Regions from separate parts of the Homo sapiens genome. Here region 1 is linked to region 2. Evidence: fine-mapped expression QTL. A gene starts in region 2. The other region holds a variant in brackets. All regions are shown on one strand. Distances are between the middles of the regions.

Region 1 (5,392 bases), 87 kb after region 2:
TTTAAAACTAGGAGGATCAATTTCTATATTTATAAAAAAAAATCCCACATAAACATCAGTTCTATGGGCTTGTTACAGATAATTTTCTTTTTTAGAGTTTGTGAATTAGTGAGCTAATGTTAAATACACTATGCTCTGCTATTTGTATTTAATCCTCATTAGACTAGGATACAGGTATAAGAAAATCCATTTACAGATAAAAAATATACAGGACAGAATGAGTAAGTTGCCTCTCACAAATAATACATTCCAGACCTAGGATCAAACACCTTGGCTGTATAACTCTAATGCTTGATAAATTTTAAAAACCATGCAGCTTGACCTTCATAATTGTAGCATTCCTTTAATTTCTTTTTAATCAAGAGTAAGTTATGTCACTAATAGTTTGTTCTATAAAACTTTATTTATTTCTATTAGTTGGAATGCAAAATCTTACCTCTACCCGCTCAGGGTTTTTCTGCGGGCCTGAGAATGAAATTGACACAAGACACATCAACTTGAGCAAAGCACATGCGTTTAGTTAATATAAGTTTGACGTGACATGCACGTCTTCCTTATGAAAGCCTAAAGATGCAGGTAGAGTTGAACACTTATATATTGAATTCAACAAAGGGTAATAAATTATGAAAATGTGGCAAGGCAAAGAGGTTTGATCTAGGGTAATTAATTGGGTAGAAAAGTGACCGGAAAGATAAATGTTAAATTAACAAATGTTGTTTGCACACATTTCCTTTGGCCTCAACTACCTATCCTTGACTATAAGAATGTTGCTTTCCTTCTGGTATAGAGAAGATATCTTTCACAAAGGTATTTTATCTCCTGCTTATAAGAAAAATAAGGAAGCTCAGAGTGTTTTCTCTTGCATCTGCTGTTTTAAAAGTGCGTTTAACTCAAAAGAGTCTATATGCCTGAGTGACATATTTCGGGGCATCATGTTCTGAACTCCTTCACTATCATATTAAGTTAAATGAAAAAAAACAAAGAAATAACGGCATATGTGACCTTTTGCAAGACTGTCTCATTGGAATTGCAATATTTGTAAAAATGAAGTTGTTAAATTTCCTCTGGGTTCTATGGGTTTATTTTGTGAAAAAGATCCAAAGGTAGAATTTAATTCCTGAGCCATGGCCAAATAGTCCCCAGCACTTGATTTTCCATATGCATGGTTTGCTTAATTTAGCACTTATATTTGGCTAAGTAGCACTGCTCTTTGTTTTGTTTTGGTTTGATTGGGTTGGGTTGGGTTGGGTTGGGTTGGGTTTCGGTCATTCTCAAGAATACTGATAGTCTTCTTGTTTATAGTCTCTACTGTCAGTGTAGTCTTAGAGCTTAATGTTATTGCTGTCTAAACATCTGGAAGTTAAATATAGACAAGAGTTTCTACAGTAAGTTTTTATGTTCATTTATTCATTGATTAAAAAGAGCAGAAAGACAAAAGAAGACATTTATGTGGCCAGTAAACATATAAAGAAAAGCTCATCATCACTGGTCAGTAGAGAAATGCAAATCAAAACCACATGAGATACCATCTCAGGCCAGTCAGTATGGCGATTATTATTTTTTCTTTTTTTCTTTTTTTTATTATTATACTTTAAGTTCTAGGGTACATGTGCACAATGTGCAGGTTTGTGTTACATATGTATACATGTGCCATGTTGGTGTGCTGCACCCATTAACTCGTCATTTACATTAGATATATCTCCTAATGCTATCCCTCCCCACTCTCCCAACCCCACGACAGGGGGGCTATCCCTCCCCACTCCCCCAACCCCAACATCACCCCAATGTGTGATATTCCCGTCCCTGTGTCCATGTGTTCTCATTGTTCAATTCCCACCTATGAGTGAGAACATGTGGTGTTTGGTTTTCTGTCCTTGCCATAGTTTGCTGAGAATGATGGTTTCCAGCTTCATCCATGTCCCTACAAAGGACATGAACTCATCCTTTTTTAAGGCTGCATAGTATTCCATGGTGTATATGTGCCACATTTTCTTAATCCAGTCTATCATTGATGGGCACTTGGTTTGGTTCCAAGTCTTTGCTATTGTGAATAGTGCCACAATAAACATACGTGTG[T/C]ATGTGTCTTTATAGCAGCATGATTTATAATCCTTCGGGTATATACCCAGTAATGGAATGGCTGGGTCAAATGGTATTTCTAGTTCTAGATCCCTGAGGAATCGCCACACTGTCTTCCACAATGGTTGAACTAGTTTACAGTCCCACCAACAGTGTAAAAGTATTCCTATTTCTCCACATCCTCTCCAGCACCTGTTGTTTCCTGACTTTTTAATGATCACCATTCTAACTGGTGCGAGATGATATCTCATTGTGGTTTTGATTTGCATTTCTTTGATGGCCAGTGATGATGAGCGTTTTTTCCTGTGTCTGTTGGCTGCGTAAATGTCTTCTTTGAGAAGTGTCTGTTCATATCCTTCACCCACTTTTTGATGGGATTGTTTTTTTCTTGTAAATTTGTTTAAGTTCTTTGTAGATTCTGGATATTAGTCCTTTGTCAAATGGATAGATTGCAAAATACCTAATGCATGCGGGGCTTCAAACCTAGAAGATGGGTTGATAGGTGCAGCAAGCCACCATGGCACATGTATACCAACGTCACAAACCTGCACACTCTGCAGATTTATCCCAGAACTTAAAGTTTAACAAAACAAAACACAACAAAAAGAGCACAGAGACAGAGTTGAAACACATTATATCTTACACCCTGTGTAGTAGCCTGTATCCACTTCTGAGCACTACAAAATAATAATAATAATAATAAATCATGGTGGAGTAGGGGGTGCAGCCTTTGGAGTTTGCCCTACATTTGAGCATATAGTTGGCTCTTTATTACTTGCATTAATTTATTCAAACATGTGGAATGCATGGACTTGTCTTATTCTGAATACTTAGCACCTAAATAAAACCTTGAGACAGTAAATCTCCAAACAATGTGCTTTCATTATTATTCCATATTCTTCAGCACTGGATGTAAATGAAATGAAACAAAGGTTTCACTAATTCTTATGTTTCACTTATGTGTTGTCCTTTATGGCAAGTTTCACTTTCCTAGCTTGGGTGTTTTCATAGGTAAAGGAAAGCCTCCATTTCTTACCCTAACCTCGAAACCTAAATTACATGCAGATCTCCAGCACTCTACCTTGATTGCAGAATTTATAGCTACATTTTATGCATTGTTTTTGGCAGGATATTAATATAGATTATGAGAAGCTAGTGGTTCCATTTCTCAAAATAGAAGCCAGGGAAATAGAAAAAAGTATGCACTGCTTGATCACTAAATGATCTTCCTTACAGACAGGGGAAGTTAATTCATCCTCATTCTGGGGAGGGGGGAAGCTAACTTACGGGCCTCAAACTGTGGAAGCAAAAAGTAAAATTAATACACCTGAATGAGTAGAAACACTTTTTAACATATGCTTTATCTGATCATTTCTTTCTTTTTTTTTCAGCCACATGGTCCAAGCATGCTAAACCTGTGGCATGTTCAGGGGACTGGCTTGGAGTGAGAGATAAGTGTTTCTATTTTTCTGATGATACCAGAAATTGGACAGCCAGTAAAATATTTTGTAGTTTGCAGAAAGCAGAACTTGCTCAGATTGATACACAAGAAGACATGGTAAGAAAACAGAAAAGTCTTCAGTAATTTCAGAGATTGTTTGTATAAAAACATAATAAAACAATAATAGCTAATACTATAATACAATTGATCCTTGAACAACATGGGTTTGAACTGTGTGGGTTCACTTATACCTGGATTATTTTTCCTCTGCCACCCTTGAGACAGCAAGAGCAAACCCTCCTCTTCTTCCCCCTCCTCAGCCTACTCAATATGAAAACAACGAGGATGAAGACTTTTACGATGTCTTCACTTCCACTTAATGAATAGTAAATAGATTTTCTCTTTCTTGTGATTTTCTTAATAACATCTTCTTTTCTCTAGCTTCCTTTATGGTAATAATACAGCATATAATTCAAATAACATGAAAATATATGTTAATTTACTTTTATGTTACCAGTAAGACTTCCAGTCAACAGCAGGCTACTAGTGGCTAAGTTTTCTGTTTTTGTTTTTTGTTTGTTTGTTTGTTTGTTTTTAAGACAGAGTCTCACTCTGGCACCTAGGCTGGAGTGCAGTGGTGCAATCTCAGCTCACTGTAGCCTTGAATTCCTGGGATCAAGCAATCCTCCCACCTTAGCCTCCTGAGTAGCTGGGACTACAGGTGCAGACCACCACTCCTGGCTAATTTTGTTTATTTTTTGTAGAGATGAGGTCTCACTATGTTGTCCAGGCTGGTCTCAAACTGAGATCAAGCAATTCTACTGCCTCAGCCTCCCAAAGTGCTAGAATTAGCATGAGATACCATAAACAGCATGGTTAACTTTTTGAGGAGTCAAAAGTTATATACAGACTTTTGACTGCACAGGCGGTCAGTGCCCCTAACTGCCACATTGTTTGAGTCAACTGTGTATGACAATGTGTGCTCAACAGTGTTCTAAGCACTGAAACTATATAATCTCATGTAATCTTCTACTAACACCCATGAAGGAGTTATATAACTCTCCCTACTTTAAAGATGAGGAAAGTCAGTCACAGAAATGTTATGTAACCCAGCCAATGACACAGCCATAAGTTGTTGGGCTGGGATTTGAACCCAGGCAAGATGACTAGTGATGCCATGTCCTTTACCACAATGCATACTGTTTATGTATCTAAATGTCTTCGTTAAATGTTCTTAGATTATTAAGTAGATTTTTTAAACCCTTTTCAATTTGCATTCTACCAAGCATAGACAGAAAAAATTTTTAAAAATACAGCTCTTAGAATTTAGAGACAAGGAAATGAAGGAAATATGTGCACTTCGAAGACGCGAGTGAATTAATGGAAGTAAAGAGGGCAAAGAAGGAGACACGTGGACTCTAGGGACACAGAGTAAGAAAATAGATTAGTTTTTAAAGAAAAGCTGGGGGTTGGAGAGTGGCCAAGATGGCCGACTAGAAGTAGCTGGAGTGCGCAGCTCTCAAAGAGAGGAACTGAAGGGGTGAGTAAATACAGCACTTTGAACTGAAACATCCAGGGTACACGCAATGGAACTAATCAAGGAAACAACTCAACCCATAGACAATGAAGAAAAGCAAGGCAGGTCGATGGCCAACCTGGGAACGACATGGAGCCAGGGGAACTCCCCTCGCCCAGGGAAGTGGTGAGTGAATGTGCAACCCCTGGAACCCATGCTGCTCCCATGGATCTTTGCAACCCTCGGGTCAGGAGATCCCCTTGTAAACCAACTCCACCGGGGCCTTCAGTCTGACACACAGAGCTAAGTGGAGCTTCAAAAGAGCAGCCTCTCAGGCATGTGCAGTGACCCGGGAGCCT
Region 2 (5,392 bases):
TGATAATGTCTTTTGCCGGTTTTTTGGGAAGATATGACGAATAGGAGAGATATGAGACAGCAGAAAAGTATCAGACGATTCAGGATGCTAGGACCCATCTACAATCCAAGCTGAAAGTACATGGTTTACAATATGTTTTCTAGTTGCCTTTGTTGGGTTTGATGCTGATATACTTACACATCATCCCCAATGTCACCAGCCCAATCAGCAACATCAGGCAAAGAGTTACCAGACCCAGAGCAGCATGACGCCAAATGGGAGATGGAGCTGGATGCCCTGGAGAAAGCCAAAAGAGCAATCAGCACACAGAACTGCTTTGTGCTTGTTTCACTTTGGTTTGTTTATTTCTCCCACTTAGGGAGCTTCCCGATACTAACGTTTCTTTCTTGCTTCTTTAATGCCCTCATTTAGAAAATACCTAATATGAAGTGCAATGAGGGTGCCATCCTTGTTTCCCCTCCATTTCTCCACCGCTCTCCTTCACTTTAAGAGGAAGCTTCGTTGGGGGAGGGGGGAGGCATACCTTTAGGAGATATACCTAATGCTAAATGACGAGTTAATGGGTGCAGCACACCAGCATGGCACATGTATACATATGTAACTAACCTGCACATTGTGCACATGTACCCTAAAACTTAAAGTATAATAATAATAAAATAAAAAGGAAGCTTCTCCTAATTTCAAGGTTTTTGTTTTACATCATTGCCCACTTTTCTTCCTCAAGTTTATTGAATTCATAAATGAGAGATCTAAAAACTGCTTTTCTGGATGATGCTGACAGTAGGAGACACCTCAAGCTTTTGAGCTCAAAAGTCTCTATAAGGCACATGTTCTATCTGCCTTGTAAAAGTGGATTCGACTTTTTAAAGTATCTTTTACCTGTTAACAATAACTTATCTATTATTCATGCTATTTATCACCTAATAAATAATGAATGAATACTGAATGAAAGAAGGAAAGAATGTGCAGTCTAACCTACAAACAGCAGAATAGACCAGAAAGCCGTTAGCATCCTAGTCATTGTTGTTGTTTAAAATATCAATGGTTGTCATGTTTTCCTTAGCTTCATATCCCTTGATTTAGGTCCAAATAACATCTAGCGCAATGTTTTAGATACAGCATGACAGACTCTAGGTACACTGTGATATGCACCATATCCACACCTCCTTTTTCCTCACAGGTTAGAATTAGAATTAAAAAGTAAAACAAAACAAGGCAAAAATGTGTAACCACATTTATTAGACATATGCAAAGTCTATTCCCATCGGCTTTTTGTAAATATCCTTCCCTCAAATGTCATGCACCACACAAAATGTAAAGATAAATCTAGAGGGCAGGAGAAAGTAGTTCAGATGACTGACATGATTCAGGAGAACCTGGATAGTTAACATATCTGAAAATAAGAGATGTGGTCTTATATATTAAATCAGAGTCTTGACCATGGAGACTGCTATTTTTCCAATTAGGCATAAGAGAATGAGCTGAAGACCAGCACTGAGACTGGGCTTCCCCACATAGCAGTTGTGTGAGCTTGCTTAAATTATCTAATTTCTCTCACCCTCAGTTTTTTCATCTATGTAATGGAGAAAATACTAATATTCGAATATTATTGTGGATTTTCATTACAATTATATCTGTATATAATGTACATAAAATACTACCCAGATACTATTATTACTGGTTCAACATTACAAATTATGCTCGGATTTCAACTACCCTAAAATTTGAAAAAATACTGACAAAAGAAAAATTAGCTCTGATCTATTTCTAATCCACTCACTCATCTTCCAGTTTTCTCTTAAGTAACTTACATCATCTAAAAGAAAAACGTCCTCTACCTTCTCTATTTTAGAAGCCTCCAATCTGGTTTCTGAAAGAATATCCTCCTGGCATCTCTAACAAGGTATAAATATCAAGGATTATATTCATAAGAAGAAATCTCTAATTCCCCAAGCTCAATTTCTGGCATGTGCAGTCAGAATTTCTCTGACTGTGTGATATCACACAACTTTAAAGAGGTTCTGAAAGCCACATATTTTCACTTCAACCTTGGGAACACTCACTTTTCTAATACATTCCACAACTATTTGTCCCCATTTTGGAGATTTCACAGCACATGTCTTTAACGCCAGTATTAAAGCTGGCACCTCAAAGCATTTAACACCTGTCCACTCCCCCAAGGACACAGCTGGTCTTCTCTGAACTCCTACCTCTTTTTCTTAGGTTATTTCCATCTCGGTTATTCCTTGCTCCAGCAGAATCCTGAAATGTGAGTGTCGCGTAGGTCACTTCTTCAGACATTGTAGAAGAAAACGCTACTTTAAATTATCTAATTAATGTTTCAATATCTTGAGGCCTGGGAACAGCATGTGTTTTTCAAGGCTGGGAGCTTTGATGTAGTCACTCAGCTGACCCAGACACACTCTACTGCCCCTCTGTAAGAGAAGAATGACAATTTGTTTCTCTACAGAGAAAGTGAGAAAAGCCAAATATTCTCCTTAGAGATATTCTCATTAGAATGTTACAGATCTCAAACTGTCTGCTCTGTCAGAACTGTTTCTTGCTGTGCAGCAAAGAAGGGGTGCTTGAGGCAGAGCAGGAGGAACATGAGGGAATTCCCATGATCCTCGGGGTAGAGGATGCTCTGAATGTTTCAGAAAAGAGTCAGGTTGTCTTCTTTACATCTATCTAAGGCTAGCTAATCTGCCTGGAGACATTGGTTCTAGTTTATTCTCAGCCACATTAGATATTAAGCAGAGAGACACACATTAAGACAGAAAGAGCTGTGCCACACACCTGGCTGCTATTATAGAAAATTCAAGCGTGTGTGTGTGTGTGTGTGTGTGTGTGTGTGTGTGTGAGAGAGAGACAGAGAGAGACAGAGAGAGAGAGACAGAGAGAGAGAGACATGGTGTTGGTAATGGAGCATGGAGAAGAAACTGATAGCTACTTAGCTACTTAACGTGAGTATGAATGGGAGTGCCCTCTTCTGGCATGGTTGGGAAAGTTCCTAACAGAACAACAACCATGGGATAATCCTGCAGACAGCAAGGAATACACAGGACAAGATTTTAAAAAGATAACTACCGGAAGTTAATACATCTGTGGTAATTTGTTACAGCAGCAATATGTAGTTAATACAGAACCCAGGAAAATATGGGGGGGGAGCGCTATATATGAGGGACGAAATTAAGGAATCTCCTCTAAAGCTTTCCTTTGGGGAGAGGCAGAATATTAGATAACTGTACTTAGGGGAAGGATTGGGTATGAGTTTTGTGGTTTCAGATGAGTGGGGAGTGATCTAAAACTTCCAAGGTTCATATCTGTGTGGAGATTATCTTAGTCAAAGGTGTCCAGCGTGAGGTGCACTCACCCCACAGCTGTGAAGCAGATGCAGAAAGGCAATGTAAAAACTTTCTCTTTAGGAACGCTGTGCATGATCTCTAAACACCTAAATATACATATGTTACTTGTTCATGTTTTTTGTTTTTTTTTTTTTCAAATTGATGAAATAATCAAAAAAATGTTTGGAGGCTCTAAGTCATATATCAATAAAACTCCACTATCAAAAATATTGAAACAAATAATAAATCTATGCTTATGTTTACTATTCTAGTTGAATTCAGAAAAGGCAGAGACCATTGACATGAGGACCAGTTTAAATAGATGATTACAAAAATAAGAAATTAAGAATGGTTTTCTATCTCTGTTCTGGTCCGTGTCCGGAGTTGGTTCCTGCCGGTGGGTTCCTGGTCTCGCTGACTTCAAAAATGAAGCCGCGGACCTTTGCGGTGAGGGTTACACCTCTTAAAGATGGCACGGACCCAAAGACTGAGTGGTAGCAAGGTTTATTGTGAAGAGCAGGATGACAAACCTTCCACAGCATGGAAGGGGTCCCAAGCGGGTTGCTGCTGCTGGCTGGGGTGGCTAGCTTTTATTTCCTTACTGTCCCCTCCATGTTCCGTTTCTGTCGTATCAGACTGACCTTTTTTCAATCCTCACCGCAATTGGCTACTTTTAGAATCCTGCTGATTGGTGCGTTTTACAGAGCGCTGATCGGTGCGTTTTACGTGGCACTGATTGGTGCGTTTTACAATCCTCTTGTAAGACAGGAAAGTTCCCTGAGTCCCCACTCGATTCAGGAAGTCTGGCTGGCCTCACGTCTCATGACTTTCACCAGATTTTGCAAAAACTGGGTTTTCATCCTCATTTCCTTAATTCTTTCACATACCTTAAAGCTTCCTAACAAAGTATTAACTTCTCACTATCCATGAAATGATGCTTAGCTTGAACAATGATGAAGAATGTCACCTGATTCCTAATTATTTCTAAGAGAAGATTGATAACACTTCTCACATACTTTCTATTATTATGATCCAAAAAGCTATATCATCTATCATTATTAGTGTATGATCATATTAATTTAGACATTTCTTTATATACTTTTCTCCCTTAAAAACTTACAGCATTTCTGTAGCTTATTTTATCAGTTACACTATTTAAAAACTCACTTTGTTGCAGTCATTTACCAAATTCTCCTTATTTCTTCATTATTTTTTCAACTATCTTAAATCTTATTGATCTCTACTCCTATCATGATTATCATGTGATTTCGACATTCAGGTAGGTGATAATTCCAATACTATGGGCTCTCAGTTCTTGAATTTGCCTCCAATAACCTTACCCACACTCAGAAATCAGTTGCTCACACACAAAAATCAGTCACCCACTAGATGATCCTAGTTTAGAGCTAGGCTATTCACCGTAGTAATCACTAGGCATATAATTGCTATTTAAACTTAAATTAATTAAAATTAAATTAAATTTAAAATTTATTTCCTAGGTCACACTAGTCATACTTCAGGTACTTAACAGCCACAGGTGGCATTGGCTATGCAATTGGACAGTGCAGGTAAATAACATTTCCATTATTAGCAACGTGGCTATTGAACAGCACTGCACTAGAGTGCAGACAATTTCATTTCCAATATGAGAAATTCTTCCATGATCTGTTTCAGATATTTCACTCTCTGACCTCCACCTCCTATGTTTCCAGCCCACTCTCTCTGGGTATTCTACACTCTACAGCATTTCAGTGCCCACTGAGATAGCAACTTCACTGACCATGCCAACTTCTCATTGTTGTCAATCCCTCATGTCTCATTTCCTATTATACCCAGCATGCACCACTTACCAGGGCCAATTATAAAAATCGTTTTCTTACCCACAGCTACAACTTCCTTGCTTACCTCTTCATTCATCATAAGCATCTAGAAAATGCAGCTTGTTTAAATCCAACCCTACCTACTCTGTGCATACATTCAAGTAGCTGAATGTGATCATATTAACTGGTTTTATCTTACGTTTTTGAAATGTAACTTCTCAGCACTCT

Evidence for each region. PIP is the estimated chance that this variant, and not a neighbour inherited with it, causes the effect. A credible set is the group of variants that fine-mapping cannot tell apart.
Region 1: its variant is the best candidate, but not a certain one, in a credible set for the expression of CLEC12B in sigmoid colon (GTEx, PIP 0.66).

The regions. Positions count from the first base shown.
Region 1 is chr12:9,920,308-9,925,699 of GRCh38, reverse strand. It overlaps CLEC2A (C-type lectin domain family 2 member A), which reads left to right. Exons shown (of 5, transcript NM_001130711.2): 3 at 3,468-3,634. Among named protein-coding and RNA genes, the nearest start is that of CLEC2A, 9.4 kb to the left of the region's middle. The variant T/C (reference allele first, on the strand shown) is at 2,077.
Region 2 is chr12:10,007,669-10,013,060 of GRCh38, reverse strand. It overlaps CLEC12B (C-type lectin domain family 12 member B), which reads right to left and starts at 2,434. Exons shown (of 6, transcript NM_001129998.3): 1 at 2,211-2,434; 2 at 178-276. The coding sequence starts at 2,301.